Linked DNA regions of Homo sapiens: regions 1, 3 and 4 are each reported to be linked to region 2. The links are microRNA targets in miRTarBase. Many come from high-throughput screens and were not tested one by one. Region 2 holds a microRNA gene; each other region holds the end of a gene's coding sequence.
What was found. Region 2 holds the annotated microRNA hsa-miR-6718-5p (UAGUGGUCAGAGGGCUUAUGA, at 3,042-3,062, shown strand). A microRNA usually pairs through its seed, bases 2 to 8, with sites in the 3' UTR of a target mRNA and lowers its output. Matches are read on the target gene's strand: a 7mer-m8 pairs with bases 2 to 8, a 7mer-A1 pairs with bases 2 to 7 and ends in A, and an 8mer does both.

Region 1 (5,506 bases), not on the chromosome of region 2:
GATTCCTCCTTTCCCTGTCATTAGCAGCAGCATCGGTGGTCTCTTCCCTTTCAACTCCAGGTATCCAGCTTTTAGGTCTGATTTCTGGAACATATCCTCTTAAATTGTTAAGCACTTATGACTGAAATATTTGTGAATTGGGGGTCGATTTAACTTTTTTCTCAAGACAGGGTCTCACTATGTTGCCCAGGCTGGTCCTGAGCTTCTGGCCTCAAGTGATCCTCCCACCTCGTCCTCCCAAAGTGCTGGGATTATAGACATGAGCCACTGTGCCTGGCCCTGATTTAATTTTTTAATATAACAAGTTGCATATTCTCTAGTGTTTACACTCACATGCTTGAATTTACAATGCATCAGGCTCTTCTCAGCAGGAGCCTCATGGGTTTTAAACTAAACCTTCATGAGCCAGAGTAACCTGAGCATACTGAAAATCCAGAATCGGCCTCTAGCACCTAATAGTAATACTGTATTTTTATCAGTTCTAAAATGCATTTCCACGTCTAAAATTAGGATACATATTATAATCAGTAGTGGCCATAATTTATTTGGTAGCATCTTTTCTTTCTTAGAGGTAGATAAAATCATGGCATGTCTGAAAATGGATAGTGTCAGATTTGATAAGATACAGTAATGGGCCGGGCATGGTGGCTCATGCCTATAATCCCAGCACTTTGGGAGGCTGAAGCAGGAAGATCCCTTGAGCTCAGAAGTTTGAGATCAGCCTGGGCAGCATAGTGAGATCCTATCTCTACAAAAATCTTCTGAAAGTCAGCCAGGCATGGTGGTGGCATGCTCTTGTAGTGTTAGCTATGTAGGAGGCTGAGGTAGGAGTATCACATGAGCCCAGGAGTTCGAGGCTGCAATGAGCCATGATAGTGCTACTTCATTCCAGCCTGGGTGACAGAGTGAGACCCTGTCTCCAAAAGAAAGAAAGAAAGAAAACGAAGAAAAAAAAATACAGTAATGAGAACGGTAGCTAACATTTGTTGCGTATCTGCCACACACAAGAATTTTTCTATGTGCTTTATGTCTATTATCTCCTTTTATGTTTATACCATCCCTGAGGAGTAGGGATGTTCAGATGGAAAAAATCTAAGGCATAGAAGAATTCAGCTAGTAACTGATGGAGTTGAGGCTTGAACCCAAGCAACAAAATAGTTCCAGGGCTACGTTTTTAACCGTCCTTCCACTATGCTGTACTGCCTCTTCATAACTGTTTGGGTTTTTTCCCCTCTTTAAGGCATCGTTGGCTTCACAGTATGACTGATGATCCTCCAACAACAAAACCACTTACTGCTCGTAAATTCATTTGGACGAACCATAAATTCAACGTGACTGGCACCCCAGAACAATATGTACCTTATTCTACCACTAGAAAGAAGATTCAGGAGTGGATCCCACCTTCAACACCTTACAAGTAAAGACAATGAAGAACAGTTGAAACATGCAAAATATGGAGCTTTTCATGTAATTACTCTTTTACTGTTTACCATTCACTATAATTCACAATTAAAATTGTGTGACTAAACAATGTCTTTCGTGCCTTTTTGCCCTTCACTTTGTTGTTTTCCAACTGCAAAATAGATGCTTCCAAACATGGTGATTGAAGTAGACTTGTATTGGGGTAGCTGCCTGGTTTACAGTTCCCTTTTCTGGAAACAGCCTCTGTGGTCCTGTTTGTGCTTTGGGACCGTACCTTACTACCATAGCTCATTATATGGGAAGACCTAAGCCAAGCCAGATTTTCTCATGGGAATTTGGAACTTGAATGGAGAGACACGAAGGCTGAAAGTCATCAAAACTGGGTGGCTTTTATTGACGCTCTCTAAGGAGGTTATCAGAGATATCGTATTTCCTGAGTCTGGTTCTTTAATGGTTCATTTTAAACTGTAAACTATCCTAGACTCTATTCCAATATATTCTTAGTTCTTTAAGCTAACTAGGGTCACAGATTTTTTTTGTTGCTTACAAATAAAAAAGTCTTTAATATCCAGATTGGTACCAGAGGTAGGCAAAAGACCTTCAAGGAAATGATGCGGGATCTTTGGAACTGGTTGTTGTGTCTGGGTAGGGTGAAAGGCCCACATCTCTCTGCATTCCAGATGGAAAGCTCACAGCTCCAGTGATCAAGGAGCTTAGCAGGCTATTGCCTTTAGTCACCAGAATCCATGAGCCCCCTTAGGATAAGGCCCCTGGAGACTGGTTAGCAGCCACCATGGAACAATTTAATAGCAATGGAAAGAAATGCTAGGATTATGGAGTCAGGTGGTTGTTTCCAAGGGCATTGAATGACTTAAGAGAGAATAAACCTTGATTCTCAAATCTCAACTCAAGGCATCAAGTGTGTGAAAGGAAAATAAGTCTTGGGACCCCAAAATCACTAAGCCAAGGGAAAAGTCAAGCTGGAAACTATGTCAGGCAAACCTGACCCCCATTTTATCCCTAAATAAGATATTAATAGCTACAAAGATAAAAAGCTACATATCTCCTTCCTTGAAATTCCTTGTGGACAAAGGACAGACAGAACTCAAAGTCATCTCTGAGGCTCACTGGAGATAAATGCATACCGATTGCTTCCTCTGCCTTATTGTTTATTTAAAAATACGGATTCACTGAGCCGGACTAAAGTGTATTCAGTGGAAGGCTGCTCAAGAACTCAAAAGAATGCAACCTTTTGTCTCTTATCTACTTATGACCTGGAAGCCCCCATCTCAGGTTGTCCAGTCTTACCTGACGGAACCAGTGTACATGTTACACATACTGATTGGTGTCTCATGTCTCCCTAAAATGTCTAAAAGCAAGCTGTACCCTGACCACTTGGGCACATGTTGTCAGGACCTCCTGAGGCTGTGTCAGAGGCACAGCCTTAACCTCAGCAAAATAAACTTTCTGAATTGATTGAGACCTGTCTCAGATACCTTTCGGGTTATAAGTGAAACGCAGGGTAATTATATGAGTTAGCTTACCTCCTTGGTTTCCTATATGAAAATGAAGGGATAGAGTGGGACCCTGCCTATTGGTATAGGGACATCTAGAAGGAACTAGAACAATGGTCTTTGCCCTTGGCTGCATATTAGCTTTTTTATAATCTAGAAGCCAGGCAATCAGACCAGCATCTCTGAAGGCAGGTTCCAGGCATCAGTAATTTTTAAAACCTCTCCCTGCACCCACCTTGTGGTTCCATTTACAGCCAATGTTTTGAACAACTGTGCTAAAGAACCAACATGCAAAAACCAGTTATTTTGAAACTTCCTCATTCATAAGAAACTAGTCTACTACAGCCCTATGTCCTGAGTATCCCTTACTTAGCTGGATCAGGTTGAATTCAGTGCCTTCAAGAGACTATTCAGTGTGCTGTTTTGGCTTTTTGAGCCCTGGACTTTTGAGACAGCATATAACATACAGGTGTTTTGCACTTATTTATTTACCTGGTGACCTGAAAAGCTGGCAGAGCAAAAATAGTCCCTGTAGGTGGCCCAGTCTGCAGTCCAAGCAGCTCTGCTGCTCAGCCCTCTCAAAGTCTATCTGGCTGATTGGGAGACTTATTGAAGTCAGAGACAAATTTCTCCAGGAGAATCACAATGGAAGCCCACAGGACTTTGGAGCAAGGTCATACCCCCTTCTGGAAGATTACTATTCTCCTTTTGAGAAACGGTTCTAATTTGCTTCTGGGGATGTTGGAGGCTATGGGACACCAGGTGCTATTTAATCCATCTACTCATAAAGTTGACCATTTCCAGCAGCACTCCATCACCTAGCAGGTGGGACCAGACAGGCCATGAAGACACATTTCCTTTGAACAGATTTCTCCCGACCCTGTGCCTTTAACTACTCTATTCCCACACCTCGCCCCTACCAATCTGTCCCTTTACCCTTGTGGAGCATTATTATCCAGTTAACTGAAAATGAAAAAAACCAAACCTGGCTTACAGATACCATGAACAATAGGCACTATCAGCTAGAAATGTACTGTGTATATTTGGGGTGGTCTTGAAGGACAGTAGAGGGCAAATCTCAATTTGTAGGCAGAATTCCAAGCACTGTCTTTTATCATGTACTTTGACTTGAGAGAAACATGATCTGAGGTGAGGATCTGTAACCGTAACCAGTCACTGGCTAGATAGTCAGAGATGGAGAAAAGCAACATGGAAGATTAGTGTAAAAGTTTTGGGAGGAGCTTGGCAAATGAACCTTGAGGCTTGGAGCTGTAATCCAAAAAGATTTAGAACAAAGTAGCCAGATGATTACTGAGATCACCTTCTGGGAACAAATCTTTGTCTCAGTGCCTACTTCTTGAAGATCCCAACAGAAAACACATATCTAAGCCCAGTATCGTCAATGCGGCAAGTTCATTTCACGGGACTTCTTCCATATTGGAGGGAGAGATGATTTGTTTTTGTGGGAATAGGCACTTATTCTGAATTTGGGTCTGTTTTCCTTGCCTATCATGCCTTGGTCAACATCAGCATTCATGGGATTAGAATGCTTTCTACCTTGTCATATGTAGGACAGTGTCCGTGGTGGAGAAACTCACTTCACAGAAAAGAAAAGAGGCCTAGTGCAGTGGCTCACACCTGTAATCCCAGCAGTTTGGGGGGCCAAGGCAGGCGGATCACCTGAGGTCAGGAATTCGAGACCAGCCTGACCAATATGATGAAACCCCGCCTCTACTAAAAATAGAAAAATTAGTCAGGTGTGGTGGCATGCGCCTGTAATCCCAGCTACTTGGGAGGCTGAGACAGGAGAATCACTTGAATCCGGGAGGCGGAGGTTGCAGTGAGCCATTGTACTCCAGCCTGGGCAACAAGAGTGAAACTCCCGTCTCAAAAAAAAAAAGACAGTGGAACTGCCTGTGGGAGTCCCTGCTTGTGTTTATGATGTGCCTTACTGACCTACCTCTCAGATATCATCTCTCATTTCTCCCTGCATCACCCACTACAGGTCAGCCACACAAGCCTCTGTCTAATCTTCAAAGACTGGATTCATTCTCGTCTTAGGTCTTTGCACTTGCTCTTCCTTCTGCCTAGAATATTAACATCTTTGTGTTGCTCCTTTTTTTGGTATCATTCATATCTTACTTTACAAGTATCACCTCCTCAACAGAATGTTCTGTGTCCATCTAATCTAAAGTAGCTTCCTCAGGAACTTCCTATTATTGTTTATTTGTATGAATTTCCTTGTTTTATTTTATTCATAGTACTTATTGTTACTTTTTGGGAAAAGGCCTGAACAAAATTATTCCAGTAAAGAATCTGTGTATTGAGCATTTACTAAACAGCCACTGTCCACCTACAAAAGCACTCTACATGTAGACATAATGAAGCAAAACTGTATTGATTAGATTTAGGGCAGGGTGCAGTGGCTCACGCCTGTAATCCCAGCACTTTGGAAGGCTGAGGCAGGCAGATCATCTGAGGTCAGGCGTTTGAGACTAGCCTGGCCAACATGGCAAAAACCCGTCTCTACTAAAAATACAAAAATTAGCCATGCATGGCGGCACATGCCT
Region 2 (5,506 bases):
AACCCAGGAGTTTGAGACAAGCTGGGAAACATAGTGGGACCCAGTCTTTAAAAAAAAAAAAATTAGCTGGGAGTGGTGGTGCATGCCTGTAGTCCCAGCTACTCAAGTGGGGAGAGGATTGCTTGAGCCCAGGAGGTTGAGGTTGCAATGAGTTGTGAATGCACCGCTATACTTCAGCCTGGGTGACAGAATGAGACCCTGTCTCAAAAAAAAAAAAAAAAAGTTAATAGCCGATGGCAAAATGACCAAAGGATGGCCCTTGAAAAGTTCTTGAGGACATGAGTGAAGGACCCCAGACCTAATAGCTCAGCCTCAGGGAAAAGTCACTCATTCATATCCCATGTAGGGTATCTCAGTCCATTTCCAAGCTCGGATCTTCCGGAGTTTTAGTAACTAACAGAGGCTGCTATTCCATCAGGGCAGAGTATTTTCTCTGGACTCCAAAACAGTGTTAGAGTCAGTGCCTGACCAAGTTCCTTCTGACAGCCTGATTTTCTTTCAAGACTTCCTACAATACAAAAATTGCCATATAAAGAGTCATCTTGGAAAGCCAACATGACTCTCTAAAATATCACTAATGTCATTTCAGATATTCCTAGAGAGATAGATATGTGGTTTAATTAAGAAACAAAACATATAGTGCTGGGTGCGGTGGCTCACGCCTGTAATCCTAGCACTTTGGGGGGCCGAGGCAGGCGAATCACCTGAAGTCAGGAGTTCAAGACCAGTCTAGCCAACATGGTGAAACCTCGTCTCTACTAAAAATACAAAAATTAGCTGGGCATGGTGGCGGGAGCCTGTAATATCAGCTACTTGGGAGGCTGAGGCAGGAGAATTGCTTGAATCCAGGAGGCGGAGGTTGCGGCAAGCCGAGATCGTGCCACTGCACTCCAACCTGGGTGACAGAGCAAGATTCCATCTCAAAACAAACAAACAAACAAACAAAAACAAACAAACATATAAAACACCCACACTGGACCTCATGAAAAAAGATTTTTGAGAGGCCAGGTCTTGTCTATTCCATGAGACATACTGCATCTGGGAGCGCTCATGACAATGTTGGCAATCTCTATCCATGCTTTGTGAAGCTCCTTTCTTCCTCCTGTCTCCCAGTTTCTGGATTGACCATTCAGGAATAATGATGAAAGGTTTTAATCAGTACAGTCACTCAAAATTTGTTAGTCTACTAAATTGTGACGTCCTTAAGGGTAGGGACTATGTTTCACCCACCTAGTATTTGGCAAAGTGCTATCCTAGTGGATAGTGGGAATTAAGTTAGTAGAATATTTACTCAATTACTTAATGCATTAATGCAAAATTTCCCAAAGTGGTTCATAGTGTGATTCAAGTAGCATCTGTTTAATGAAAACATGACTGTGTGGCAAAGGCCAGGCTGGGCAAGGCCAAGGAAAGATGCCCAATAGTTGGGGGGACCATTCCATCAGGGTGACCATTCCAAAGACCAGTCTTCAGAGCAAGGCAGGAAGCAGACTGGTGAACACTCCTTCTGACCTATATACCTTTGACTTCTAACTCTGCAACTCACTGGGCAATATCGTACCTTCTGCCGTTCTACCTGTCTGGAAGTAAAGTCTGGGGAGTTTGCCTAACCTGCTGACTACAGGATGCTTAGACAGAGGGCAATCCGCCTGGAAGAGAGAGAGAAACTGACTCTTGAAGGGACAAAAAAGGAATTCAGGACTTATGATACCTGTGGATAAGGAAGAACCGATAGGTAAAAAACGTGTCCACTGGTGACAGACTAATGAAACAGAAAACCTTGGGATTGCTTTGTATGAAGTTATGGTCCTAAAAGTAGGCTGTGGCAAGGAAGAATGTAAGAGGGTTAAGTATGTGTTTTTAGCAAAACTGTGGCACAAACTAACTTAGATGCAAAAATCCATTGCATAAGAAAGTCTCTCTCTACAAATCAGGTTCCACTGAGGACATTTTTGCCTTTCAAATACAGACTTATAAAAAGCAAAAACAAGATTCTATTAGGATTATAGACACATACTAACTTTTATGATCACATATAGTAGAATCTCAATATATAAAATGATGTGGAATAATGTTTCGAACTTTCCTTCTCAAGCAGTTTGAATCTTGGGTAGATATTTTCTGCTAAATAAAATGTGAAACTGGCAAGAGCTGAAAACATGAATTATACATGTTTACTCCAAAATATACAAGATTATTTTAATCAGGTATTCAGTATTTAATTATCTTTAATATGTGAGCAACATTCCATGCAAGATGACGTTACCTGAGGACAAGCAGAGCAAACGAAGAGCTGTTTAAGGCCACTAATGATGATTTAAGTTAAATGATGTAACCAATGATAATTTCTGTAAATTAATCATACACAGTGTGTTTTTTACTAAAATTTAACTGGGCTATTTTCAGCACAGGACAAGCACCTCTATTTTCTTGGAGGGTAACAAATTGCATCCAGAATAAATAAGCTAACATTCCTCCTTCCTTACTTGTATTTGTAAAAGAGATATTGAGATCTTGATCTTTTTTCTCTATGATGTGGGAAAAGAAGGTCATAAAAAATGGCAATAAACATTTCTAAATGCTAAATCTATCTTTCTGGTCAAGGCCAAATAAACAACTTAATACCATGGCCCTTTCTGTAACAAATCTTACACTCTCTTCTATCGTCTTGTCATTTTAAAATGAAAATAGGTCAATTTGTGATTATAAAAGAAAACACATTCTGTGACTTCTTGGTGAGCAAGGGCAAATGATCTAAAATCCTAAGGCCATTGGCAATGGGTAGACAATTGCTGGTGGCACCTACTATGGAGGTCCTGCTCTTCCTTCTCTCATTCTTCATTTTCCTCTTGCCTTACTCTTAAACTCCCTTTCCAGCACATTTATCTCTGTCACTTCTTTTTTCCCCCCTCTCCTAATTAATGTTTATAAGTTGTATCCATGGGTACCACTTGCTGCCACCTGTGGTGTGACCAAGAGCATCATTAGAAAGCTTCCTTGCCTGCTGCTGCAAAGACGACCAAATGCCTACAGTGAATCCCTAGTGGTCAGAGGGCTTATGATATATTGTGAGAGCCATGTCATAAGCCTTTTGGCCACTAGGGATTCAATGTATGCACTTCATGACCTAGCCACAAAAAAACATGAAAAGAGATAAATAACAATTCTCATTCTTCTATGCATTCTTGAAAAAAGAGGATGCTAGCCTCTCAATTAGATTTTAAGTAATGATAACAATTGCTGGAAATAGAGAGGGAAATTGCCTTTCAGGCCTTGTTCTTTGAGCAAGGATGGGGACTGTGGTCAGCATGTCTTCATGAGGGTTTCTGTGACTACCAGTGATTAGCTCTAATTTCTTCTTGTTCGCTGTGACTTCAACATTCTGTTTTATTGTCCTTCTAAGTTCAATTTTACCATTGTACCATGTCTCCTGATTTTTTTGCTTGGATAATTTGTTGACTCTGTTTGCAGCCATGAGACAAGCTCAGAGTGTGAGATGCACAGTTTTTCCAGAGTTCCAACACCTGGAGCAGAATTATCACTGTCCAGATGATGACCAAAACAAGAATAATCCAGCACTGTAAAGGAAATTTTCAAGGTAGGTAATTTATTAGACCCAAGGAAAACACAAACACACCACATATTAGAAGATGCTGACAAAGGGGAAATAGTCTTGCAAAGCTGGCAAGTCCTTATTCCATTTTGATTTTTGTGCATGTCTTTATTTAGAGCTGCTTTTCTTGATTTTTCTTTACATGCAGAAATAAGAGCATACTGAAGGCCCTCCTCTGTCTTACCCCATGAGGATGGACAGGCAGGCAATTGCGACTTACTTTAGAAAGAAAGTGGTGGACCCTGCCCAGGAGAACAGGGGCACTGTGTTCTTGTTTGAGGAGACATCAGGAAGAGGAAATCTCCATGAATCTTTTCAGGGTCAAGCTGTCCTAAAAATTTCTTTTTTGAATTTTTGTGGGTACCTAGTCATGTATATATTTCTGGGGTACATGAGATATTTTGATACAGGCATATAATGTTTAATAATCACATCAAGGTAAATGGAATATCCATCACGTCAAATATTTATCCTTTTTGTTACAAACAATGCAATTATACTCTTATAGTTATTTTTAAAAGTGCGATTAGATTATTATTGACTATAGTCACCCTATTGTGCTATCAAATACTAGATCTTATCATTCATTCGGACTTGCATCTATTTTTTTTGTACCCATTAATCATCCTCACTCTCCCACCTTAGCAACACCTCTCAACTACCCTTCCCAGCCTCTAAATGATCATCCTTCTAACTCTCTATCTCTCAAGTCAACTTTTTGGCATCCCTCCACCTGCCAGAAGCTTGTCCATGCCAGGTTATAACATACCACTAAAGAGAAAGAAAAGATTTTCTTGTTGAAAAGTACAAGCAGCCCTGAACAATGACTACATTTTCCATTCTCCCTAGATGTGCCTGGGTGACTATGCTGGCCAATGGAACATAACTTGAAACGGCATGTGTGATTTCTGGAAAACATCTCTAAAGTGAGGGGCATACGCTTCTTTACCCCTTCTCTGGCTGGAACGCAGCTGTGGGGGCTGGGTGAATAGTGATCTTTCCCATGAGGTGGAAGTTACAGTTTGAGGATTAGAGAAACAAAAGATAAAGGTTCTGACCTACAGCGGAGTGCCATATCCGCCCTGGATGTGCACCTCTGCATTTTGTTTAGTCGAGAGAAAAATAGACCTTTATCTTGTTTCCTTATCTTATCAAGTAAAGGAAGGGCCTGCGCTGGCCCCATAGGAAGCCAGAGTCCCTTGCTATTGAACCACGTGACAACTTTAGCCAAGGGCTCTGCAGAGGGAGTCTGTGTGGAGAGAGGAGACAAAATAGCTCGCGGTTATTTTGCTTTCTGTAATTTTGTGTACTGAACCTTGCACCTGCACCTGTTCCTAAGTGAGACAGGTAGTCAGGGCAAAATCATGAGACCCTTGGTGAAGCTATGTCAGGATGCAGCACTGTATTTGCAGGTGGTGGTAATCCATTAGAGGAATTTAAACAAGACAGTGGCATGGTCACACTTGTGCTAAAGATTTCTCTAGCTGTAGTTAGAGAATACATGTGGGAGTGGGGAGGGGCAAAAAGATCTCAAAGAAGCAATGATTTCTTGCAAGAGCAGTTTATGAGAGAAGACTGGAAGAAAAGAAGGAGTATACCAAGAGAGGAGGACAATGTCCTGGCCAGCTACGGCAGTGTCTCCTGATTCAGACCTCCTTGCTCACACATGCATGCTCCAACCACAGTCTGAACACATACATGACATTTTTTTTTAGACAGAACAAAATTAATTTTCCCGTTTACTTATAATAAATCCCAATTCTACAGAGATTGAGAATGATGAATGCCCAACAGGCTGATGATTTTAAATTATTACTTTTTAAAATAAGAAAATGGTTCTTACTACTAAAAAATGAAACCATGGCACTTTTGCGTAAAAGTAAACAGAAAACG
Region 3 (5,506 bases), not on the chromosome of region 2:
GTGGTGGTGCACGCCTGTAGTCTCAGCCGCTTGGGAGTTGAGGTGAGAGGATTGCTTGTGCCCCAGAGATTGAGGCTACAGTGAGCTGTGATGCACTCCTGTACTCAGCCTGGGTGACAGAGTGATCCCCATCTCAAAAAAAGTAAATTCAGATTTCCAAAGGTTTCCTAGGGACAGGACACCAACCCCACTGAGAAGCAGTGCCCTAAGCAGTCACACCCGGTCCCAGGGCTTTCAGCGGTATCTCTGAGTTAAGTTTGTGCAGACTGGCATCTGCATGCTGATGGCTCCCTGAGCTCCAGACTCCTGTCCAACTGCCTGCCTGTTGTCTTCACTGGATATCCCACGAGCATCTCACACTTTACATGTCTAAAACAGCTCTTGGCCTTCTCCCCTAAACTCTTCCTCCTCCTCTTCCCTGTTTCAATAAATGACTCCACCATCCACTTAGCCGCTTGATCAGAAACTTAGGAGTCATTGTGGACACACACACACATACATACATGTACACATACACACACAGACACACACATATACATGTACATTCTCTTACGTGACAAATGTCCATGTTACCAGGCCTCACTGTGTCATAGCTGTCATTTTGAATGGCTCTTTTCCACTGATTGTGAGCTCCACCAGAGCTTGGACTATGTTCTGCTCATCAGTGTTCCCAGGGCTTAACAGGGACCTGGTTGTCAAGTAGACACTTAATTGTTAAATAAATGAATTAATGAAAGAACAGACCAGTATAAAGTGATTGAAACACCTCACTTACCATTTCACTGACTATTAACTGAATCCAAGATAAGGTGGCCGCATTTGCATGTGATCTGTGCATCCCCGAGTCTGAGCCTGACTGGCTGAAGGGCTGTCAACAGCCTGCACAGACGTCCTTTAAGGGCTGGTAGCCAGGGTTCGGGGAGCTGATGGTTGTTCTCTCCCTCAGGTCTACTATCCATGGCCAACTCTGGCCCAAACACCAATGGCTCTCAGTTCTTCCTGACATGTGACAAGACAGACTGGCTGGATGGCAAGCATGTGGTGTTTGGAGAGGTCACCGAAGGCCTAGATGTCTTGCGGCAAATTGAGGTATGTGGCCAGGAATGGGCCTCCTCCTTACCCAGGCCCTAGGAGCACAGCCCTGTGTGAGGGCTGGAGAGTCTCTGTGGCCTGAGAGAGATGGCCAGGGGCTGTGTCCAGCGGGAGGGGCTGCTGCTGCCCAGGTTCCGGGGTGGAAGTGGGCAAATGGGCAGGCAGGGGTTGGTATCCCTAAACCACTGTTAGTCTCCGGCCTTACTCCCTCACTTCTATTCTGCCACAAAGGCCCAGGGCAGCAAGGACGGGAAGCCAAAGCAGAAGGTGATCATCGCCGACTGTGGGGAGTACGTGTGAGGCGGCACTCTCTCTGCTTCCCCCTCCGCTCTTGACCCTGCATATCCAGGAAGGAACTGCCAGCCTCAGAGGAGGCAGCACCGAGGGTGCCTGTTTGAAGCAAGCAGCATTTGGGATATGTGCCCTTCCTCAGGGTCTGCTTGGAGCAGCTCCTCTGCAGGCACAGCCTGGACTATTCCCAGGCACAGCTGTGGGCCCAGGAGCCAGCTCAGGTGCTCCCCTCCACCATGGGCAGGCTGTGCAAAAAGCCACTGGCTTTTCTCAGCATTTGCTGCTGGGCCTCTCCTGGGACTACCAGTGTGGCTCTTACGTGTTTTCTTTGCTAAAATAAACCCTAGTTCTTATATTGCTCTTCCTGCTAGTTCTTGGGAGTTGTCAGAGATTGTGTCTGTGGCTAAGCTGGACCTCTGAGGCAGGCTGGTGAGTGGGGAGAGCAGAGCATCTTTTTCACAGCTTTCATTTCCTCCCTTGGGCCGATCCCCTTAGATGTCAGGTGATGTATCTTCACACCAGGCATCGATGTCAGGGCAACGGAAATTAAAGACTGGAAAGCTCCGGTCTTCTGCTGCCTCTGCTCCTAAACCCAGCTGCCGGCCTTACAGCCAGCAAGTGTACTCTCAGTGGTTCATTTGTTTATTTGTTCACTTTCACCCTACAGATTTTAAAAAATGAAATTTTTATAACTCAAAGTGCCTTCTCTGTGCCAAGTACTATGCCTATTTGTCAGGAGACAGGAAGCCAACAAACTACATGTGCCTAATCCAGCCCACTGCCTGTTTTTATGAATCAGGTTTTATTGGAACACAGCCACGTCCATTTATTTACATATTGTCCATGGTGGTTTCTTACTGCAGTGGCAGAGGTGCGTAAGGGGCTATAGACACAATACAGGCTATGGTCCCTGTATTAGGGTTTTCTAGAGAAGCAGAACCAATAGGGTGTGTATATATGTAGAAAGAGATTTATTTTAAGGAACTGGCTCAAGCAGTGGTAGGAGCTGGCAAGTCTGCAATCTGCACAACAGACCAGCAGGCTGGAGACTCAGGAAAAAAACTGATGTTGCAGTTCAGCTCTGAGGCAGTTTGGAAGCAGAATTCTTCCTCCAGTGATCTCAGTCTTTTTTCTCTTAAGAATTTCAACTGATTGGATGAGGCCTACCCACATTATGGAGGGTAATCTGCTTTACTCTCTACTGACTTAAATATTAATCCATCTAAAAAATAGGCCAGGCATGGTGGCTCATGCCTATAATTCCACCACTATTGGGAGGCTGAGGCAGGAGGATCACTTGAGCCCAGGAGTTCAAGACCAGCCTGGGCAATGTAGAGACCCCCATCTCTAGGGGGAGAAAAAAAAGCCAGGTATGGTAGTGCACACCTATAGTCCCAGCTACTCAGAAGGCTGAGGTGGGAGGATCGCTTGAACCTGGGAGGTTGAGGCTGCAGTCAGCCATGGTCATGCCACTGTACTCCAGCCTGGGTGACAAGAGGGAGACCCTGTCTTGAAAAAAAGAAACCATCATCACAGCAACATCTAGACTAGTGTTTGACTAAAAACTGGATACCATGGCCTAGCCAAATTGACACACAAAATAGACCATCACAGTCCCAAGGCCTAAAATACTTACTATCTGAGCCTTTACAAAACAGGATTGCCAGCCACTGAAGAGAACAAATGGTCCCACCCCCTGCTGAGCTCACAGTCTGGCTCTCCTGTGTGCAGCCACTTCTTGGAGCTGGCTTCTCTCCACTCCCCCTCCAGATGCTGGTCAGCCAGGCGGTTATAAAGAATCTCATCTGCTGAAGGCTTTTAGCAGGGACTGAGTCCTGTAGCTGTTGGACACCTCCTGTGGGTTGGGTCACTCAGACCATTCAGAATCCACTGAGCTGAGCTTTTGCATCTTGGATTGAGATCTGGATGAGCCAGGAGGCAGGAGAGGCTAGGTGGTCCTCATGACCCTAGGATAGCTCTTGCTGAGGGATGGTGGCATTCTGCCCTACCTCTGGCTCCCATGTGCCGACTGGACTTTGTGAGCTCCAGCTGCTACAGTTGACTGAGTTCAGGCTCCATGTAGCTGGGATATACTACATGGTTACCCCTCACCCCTATGGAGCTTCCAAAAGAGACCCTCCCTCAAAGCACAGCCCCTTCTCTGAGTGCAAATAATGGCCATCAGAGGTCAGTCACAGGTGTTAGGCAGGCATCTATGAAGCTGGGGATGATAGCACTGACTTCAGTGCTTGGACGAGAACCAGGAGAGAGTGTGTAGAAAAAGCACAGCCAGCCTCCCATAAAAGGACAGACTCCTGTGACAACCTTGTCACTCTGTTCCTCCCTGATACTCTGGGGAGGTGGAGGCCAGTGGGCAGTTCTGAAAGCTCAGCAGGTTTGGAGCCATTGGGTGTGGACTCCTCTCCCAGTGTTCCTCCTGGGTGTTCACAGATGTTATTGAATGCACACTGGAACCCTGCACAGGTAAACTGAGGCTTTATTGGCGTGACTGCCAAAGGTCACACAGGGTGGTTTGGCAGAGCTGGGATTAGAAGCCCAGCCTGTCTCTCTTCAGTAGTAATGGAGTCCTGGGAGGTTTACTAGGCTTTAGCCTCAATCTGTGGCGGCAGGGTCCACAGCCCTGGGGAGTGACACAGTCATGGTCCCCATGATTGGCCAGGACCTGTGTGGAGAGACACAGGAGACAAGACCCTGCTCTTCCAGGCCAGAAGGGAGGGGAGCCCCAGAGCTGGGCAGTGGCATGCCCCACAGCCTGGCCACCTGCTTCGGCTACGCACCATGCAGCAGCTGCACCTGGCTGCCTCGGGAAAACTCTGACCTCTCTGGGAAGTGGAGCCAGTGGCTCTGTGGGCGTCCTTTCCTGCAGCCTGGAGAGCAAAGCGGCTTTCCCTGGGACTGTGTGGCTCCTGTCCCAACTGGCCTCCCCATTCCACATTCCCATTGCTGGACCAGCACCAGGACTGGGCACAGGGCTTCCTTTTGCTGATTCATTTCCCCCCTAACTCATTCAGAGTTGAGCCCCATCTGAGTCCCCACATGCTGGCCCTGAAACGGTTACAAAGGCTGAAACCAGGGATGGCAGGCCCAGGATCAGTGCTGTGGCTGTTGGAGTGTCCTCTCCAACAGCATGACAGCCGCCTCCAGGTGCTCCCAGCATCTGTTGCAGTCATGGCAGCCTCACGGCAACCTCTGAAGAAGGAATTATAGAACCAACTTTTTATTGTTGAAAATGGAGTCTTGTAGAGTTCAGTGATGGGAAACTAAAGTAGAAAAAGCACATCACAAAGAAACATATATAGTACAGTGTGATCCCAATTTTGTAAAAATATCTGTAATATGTAAGCATAGGTATTTGTATATCTTAAGAAAAAAAGCCTAGAAATAAAGCCACAAAAATATTAATAGTGTGTTTATTTGACTTGTGGGACTGTAGTGATTTGAATTGTATTTTATTTTTTATATATCCCACTTTCCTCCAAAACTGCATTATTTTTTTGAGAAGTGAAAGACATTTTTGAAAAAGGGGGTCAAGTGCCCATCCAGGGTTCCTTTCAAAAAGGGGGCCAAGCAGTTGACCTGGATGGGCAGTTCCCCCATGCAAATTGCCACCCAAGACACCTGGTGGGTACAGACCTCTCTCAGCAGGACATGGGATCCCATTGTCTGGGAACACAGCAAAGTTTCACAGCCGCTGCCACAAGTGACACTTGCTAGGCCTTTAAAGGCTATAAGAATACAAGTCCCGCCCTCTGAGGGATGCCATGTGTAGATGGTTTAGGAAAGAGCACAGCTCTGAAATAAATACATCATCACCTGCAGAACACATTTTGGTTTAATGGACAGACATAGAAGTGGCTCAAAAATAAGCAAATTCATTTGTAATAATACCAGCAAATACCTATTGTTAAGCATTTATATGTCAGACATCCCAAAGATTTGTGTACATATTTAGTCTTTATAATAGCTTTGGGAGGAAAGAACCAATATCATACTCTACAAAGGAAGAAGCAGAACCAGGATTCAAATCTATTTGGCACCAAAAATCTGCCTCTTGCTACACTGCCTCTATTCCTGTTTCTTTGGACCTTTTCCAGAACATGTT
Region 4 (5,233 bases), not on the chromosome of region 2:
TCAGCTGGACAGGCTTTTCAAAAGCTACACACCTCCCTCTCTCCTTCTTCTCATCAGCTTTCCCTGAGAACCACTGTCTTAAACTTTATGATCCCAGTTAGTCTGATTTCATTAACTGATACAGATTGTTTGCTTTCATTAACTATTTTTGGCCTTCTGTAACATATCTAAAGTAATGTTGACCATGTATTTCTTTTACAGGGTTGTGGGAAGAAAATGTATTCCTTTTTGAGAGGAACCAAACAACTGCAGGTGCTGAGGTTTCTGGGAATCTCCATTGGGGTGACACAAATCCTGGCCATGATTCTCACCATTACTCTGCTCTGGGCTCTGTATTATGATAGAAGGGAGCCGGGGACAGACCAAATGATGTCCTTGAAGAATGACAACTCTCAGCACCTGTCATGTCCCTCAGTAGAACTGTTGAAACCAAGCCTGTCAAGAATCTTTGAACACACATCCATGGCAAACAGCTTTAATACACACTTTGAGATGGAGGAGTTATAAAAAGAAATGTCACAGAAGAAAACCACAAACTTGTTTTACTGGACTTGTGAATTTTTGAGTACATACTATGTGTTTCAGAAATATGTAGAAATAAAAATGTTGCCATAAAATAACACCTAAGCATATACTATTCTATGCTTTAAAATGAGGATGGAAAAGTTTCATGTCATAAGTCACCACCTGGACAATAATTGATGCCCTTAAAATGCTGAAGACAGATGTCATACCCACTGTGTAGCCTGTGTATGACTTTTACTGAACACAGTTATGTTTTGAGGCAGCATGGTTTGATTAGCATTTCCGCATCCATGCAAACGAGTCACATATGGTGGGACTGGAGCCATAGTAAAGGTTGATTTACTTCTACCAACTAGTATATAAAGTACTAATTAAATGCTAACATAGGAAGTTAGAAAATACTAATAACTTTTATTACTCAGCGATCTATTCTTCTGATGCTAAATAAATTATATATCAGAAAACTTTCAATATTGGTGACTACCTAAATGTGATTTTTGCTGGTTACTAAAATATTCTTACCACTTAAAAGAGCAAGCTAACACATTGTCTTAAGCTGATCAGGGATTTTTTGTATATAAGTCTGTGTTAAATCTGTATAATTCAGTCGATTTCAGTTCTGATAATGTTAAGAATAACCATTATGAAAAGGAAAATTTGTCCTGTATAGCATCATTATTTTTAGCCTTTCCTGTTAATAAAGCTTTACTATTCTGTCCTGGGCTTATATTACACATATAACTGTTATTTAAATACTTAACCACTAATTTTGAAAATTACCAGTGTGATACATAGGAATCATTATTCAGAATGTAGTCTGGTCTTTAGGAAGTATTAATAAGAAAATTTGCACATAACTTAGTTGATTCAGAAAGGACTTGTATGCTGTTTTTCTCCCAAATGAAGACTCTTTTTGACACTAAACACTTTTTAAAAAGCTTATCTTTGCCTTCTCCAAACAAGAAGCAATAGTCTCCAAGTCAATATAAATTCTACAGAAAATAGTGTTCTTTTTCTCCAGAAAAATGCTTGTGAGAATCATTAAAACATGTGACAATTTAGAGATTCTTTGTTTTATTTCACTGATTAATATACTGTGGCAAATTACACAGATTATTAAATTTTTTTACAAGAGTATAGTATATTTATTTGAAATGGGAAAAGTGCATTTTACTGTATTTTGTGTATTTTGTTTATTTCTCAGAATATGGAAAGAAAATTAAAATGTGTCAATAAATATTTTCTAGAGAGTAATGATTTGTCTCTGCCTACTTTTTAATACATTACAAGCACTTATGCCACTTGAGAAGATTGTCAAGGGGAGAAAAACATGAGAAAGAATGATTGCATAAAGTATTAATATTGATTTCCAAACTCCGGAATGGACCTATAAGAATATGTATTTTCACTGAGAAGAGTCAAAAAGATGCCCATTTTTCACTTTTGCTTTTTACCTAAATGTTAAATAATATACTTGTTTGAGATAATATAAAAATATGCCCATTTGTGTTCATCTTTTCAATGTTTGCATATCACAGTTTTATAACTTATTAATTTTTAAGAGACTATGAGTCTCTTAGTTAATTTCAAATTCTCTTCAAATGAGTTAAGGAATATAATCCTTGAAATTGACTGCCATGTTTAAAATCTTCCATAGATTTTAATGAAAACTGAGTACATTACTTGTTCAATCAGAGCCAAAAGCATCCCTTTTAATAACTTCCTCAATACCCCAAATCCCTGTAATTTCACCTAAAATACCCACGTAACTGAGATAGCTATGTATGAGTTTTGTTTGAATTATTTGTATAATGGTCAAATTTAGCTGCTGCTTTTTTTGATATGTCTTACAGTCACAGCAAGAGCAAGCATATAATATGTTGGGCTCAGTAAAATAAAAAGTCCTCAAATTATAAAAGTTGCTTTCTACATTTTTAGACCTCAGATATTTTGATGTATTACCTGATACACTACCCTCTAGAATGGTCAACATAAATTTAGACAATCGTTTTGTATATAATACACTTGCTTAATGGGAATGAATGACATTTATAGCAGTAGCTCACAAAGCCTCTTATGGTAGCAGTGCACCTGGAATAATAAAACTGCAAGGGAGTTAAAAAAGTATATTTAATGCAGTAGAGCTGAGGGAGTTCACTATTTGGGTACATTGCAAACAAAACTGTTAACTGTTTCTTTGGGAATTTTTAAAAGCTTTCTTTGGTTAAAAAAAAAAATCACCATTTTTTAAAAGTAGAAATTTAAGAAGATTATTTTTAGACTGGTTAAAAGTCCATTCAAAGTGCCCTGGAGACTCAGAGATGGCAACAAGAGATGATGTCTGTCCTTAAACACTGTAGAATCTGGGTTAGAGACACTTGTGCTAACCACAGGAAAAATAAATAAGGGAATATGCAGTGAGTGGGGCCCTTCTTAAGAATAAGAGATGGAGTAGAGTGGAATTAAGGCAGCTATGCCAAGGAGATGGCGTTCAAGCTGGATCAGAAGGAGCAGTGGAGTCTAGCTGGCTCATGGAAAATATTCCATGAGCCATGAGTTTGAGGTTAAAAAGTATACATTATTTTGGAGTTATGACTTATGGTTCAATGTGGTTAGATCATAGAATGATTGAAGAGATGCCATGGGACAGGAAATGAATGAAATTTGAGTTTGGGTGCTTTGTTCTGTAGGCCCAAAGTAAAGTCACCGAAGCAATTTCAGAAAGAGAAATGATGAATATTTCATTAATTTAACTGGATTAGCCAAGTGAGAAAGAGGGGACCAGGAGACAGTTATACTTATTTTGCAACTCCTGGGTGGGTGGGCCACCATTGACCACAGCCTAGGTAAGTGGAGCACTTGAGAGTTGTACACACTGCAGGCCCTGGCAGGAGACTGAATAGATTGCTGTTGTTGTGGTCCTGGAGAGGGATAAGGATCCTCACCAGGACAATGGAAGTCAAAAAACAGAGTGCATAAAACAGATCACAACAGGGTGAATCCACAAAAATTGGCAGTAGCTAGACCTCAGGGAGTGTGGGACAAGAAGTAAAAGTACTGAAATTTCTGGATTTTGTGCCTGGCAAATTGGCAATGGCATTAACCTAGATGGAAGACTGGAGGGGAACGAGTATGAGAGGGTAATTAATTTGGTCTGAGACACAGAGTTGGAGATGCCTGCAGGACATGCAGATGGAGATGTCTACAGGCAGCTGTAAATTTCAGTCTGGAGCTCAGGAGAATTCACTGTCAAGCCTGAGAATTTTTATGCATTGCTTTCCCATCTCAGGAAGCCTGACAGAAAATGGGCTGGGAACCAAATCTTATATGAGGAGAATCTTAAATAGATTGCCACAGAAGCTTCCTTTTGTCTGAATTCCCTCTCCTGTGGATGAGTCAAGGGAGGTAAAGAAAGAAGAAATCACTATACTACTGAATCTTCTCTGGCAAAGAAGCTGCCCCTTTTTTAAAACACTGCCAACTGCTATGTTGCTTCACCCAACCCCCTTCCTATTGTCATCCTGAGATTTACAAGCAGATTCGTCTCCCCTGTGAACTGAGTTCTCATTTCCTCACATCCTAGAAACATATATAGGAGAATCTTTGGTATCATCTTGATCTTGAAAGCTTTTCTTTTTCTATTTTTATGTGTTAATTGCAATCACTCTTTACCTCATACTTTCAGGGGTGCGTACTAGGTACCAGGCACATGTAGGAGGTGCTTTACACTTATTTTCTCTGTTCTTCACAACTCATTTGCAATTTGCAGGCACCCCACTTTATTTTACAAATGAACAAGAGGGACTCCAAGAGACTGAATACATTTACTTAGCTAATATGTGGCAGAGCTATACTTCCACTTTCCCCATTTTGTGGCATGGTATCTTCACCAGCCTGTGGTGAAGCTCAGATGATTCTTTACCTAGAAAAGCCAAATTCTCCTACATGTAAATCAATATCACCAGGCCAAATCAAAATGATGCTCTTGTCTAACCTCATTCCTACTATTATTTCCCAAGAACAAGTATAAATTATCTAAAATATCTTGTACACACACATACACACACAGGCAAATTAAGTTCTGTTTTTTTTGAGACAGAGTCTCACACTGTCACCCAGGCTGAAGTCAGTGGTGCAACCTCGGCTCACTGCAACCCCTGCCTCCCAGGTTCAAGCGATTCTCCTGCCTCAGCCTCCCAAATGTCTGGGATTACAGCTGTGCATCACCACGCCTGGCTAATATTTTGTATTTTTAGTAGAGATGGGGTTTCACTATGTTGACCAGGCTGGCCTTGAACTCCTGACCTCATGATCCGCCCACCTCAGCCTCCCGAAGTGCTGGGATTACAGGCATGAGTCACCATGCCCAGCCCAAATTAAGTTCTTTAATCAACTTTATTGAGATTTTATATACATATATATATAAAAACATACTATATATATATACACACACACATACACACACACACACCCCTAATAAATATACCCCTTTCAAGTATATAGTTAATTAGTTTTGGCAACTATATATACTCATGTAACCACAACAACAATCGAGATCTAGAACATTTTCATCGTGTCAAAAAGTTTCCTCTTGCCCATCTGTGATAAATCCTGCATTCCCCTCTCCTAGCCCCAGGCAACACTGATCTGTTAACTATCACTCAGATTAATTCTTGTGAAACTTTATTCTTATCTTGCTGCTTCCTTA

Region 1: miRTarBase lists NDUFA12 as a target of hsa-miR-6718-5p. The part of its 3' UTR that is shown has no 7-base or 8-base seed match.
Region 3: the mRNA of PPIE is a reported target of hsa-miR-6718-5p. Seed matches in the 3' UTR shown: 7mer-A1 at 2,648-2,654.
Region 4: miRTarBase lists TSPAN12 as a target of hsa-miR-6718-5p. Seed matches in the 3' UTR shown: 7mer-A1 at 1,285-1,291.

What each region holds. Positions count from the first base shown.
Region 1 is chr12:94,967,355-94,972,860 of GRCh38, reverse strand. NDUFA12 (NADH:ubiquinone oxidoreductase subunit A12) reads left to right here. Exons shown (of 4, transcript NM_018838.5): 4 at 1,241-1,528. The coding sequence ends at 1,421. Among named protein-coding and RNA genes, the nearest start is that of NDUFA12, 34 kb to the left of the region's middle.
Region 2 is chr18:3,882,322-3,887,827 of GRCh38, forward strand. It overlaps MIR6718 (microRNA 6718), which reads left to right and starts at 3,032; the gene lies at 3,032-3,111. The region is part of intron 3 of DLGAP1 (DLG associated protein 1); the gene reads right to left. All of the region lies in intron 1 of DLGAP1-AS3 (DLGAP1 antisense RNA 3), which reads left to right. It overlaps LOC124904238 (a long non-coding RNA gene), which reads left to right. Exons shown (of 4, transcript XR_007066270.1): 3 at 3,472-3,598; 4 at 4,463-4,976.
Region 3 is chr1:39,751,964-39,757,469 of GRCh38, forward strand. PPIE (peptidylprolyl isomerase E) reads left to right here. Exons shown (of 10, transcript NM_006112.4): 9 at 947-1,089; 10 at 1,324-4,806. The coding sequence ends at 1,392. It overlaps BMP8B (bone morphogenetic protein 8b), which reads right to left. Exons shown (of 7, transcript NM_001720.5): 7 at 5,219-5,506. Among named protein-coding and RNA genes, the nearest start is that of PPIE, 16 kb to the left of the region's middle.
Region 4 is chr7:120,783,866-120,789,098 of GRCh38, reverse strand. It overlaps TSPAN12 (tetraspanin 12), which reads left to right. Exons shown (of 8, transcript NM_012338.4): 8 at 202-1,779. The coding sequence ends at 507. Among named protein-coding and RNA genes, the nearest start is that of TSPAN12, 72 kb to the left of the region's middle.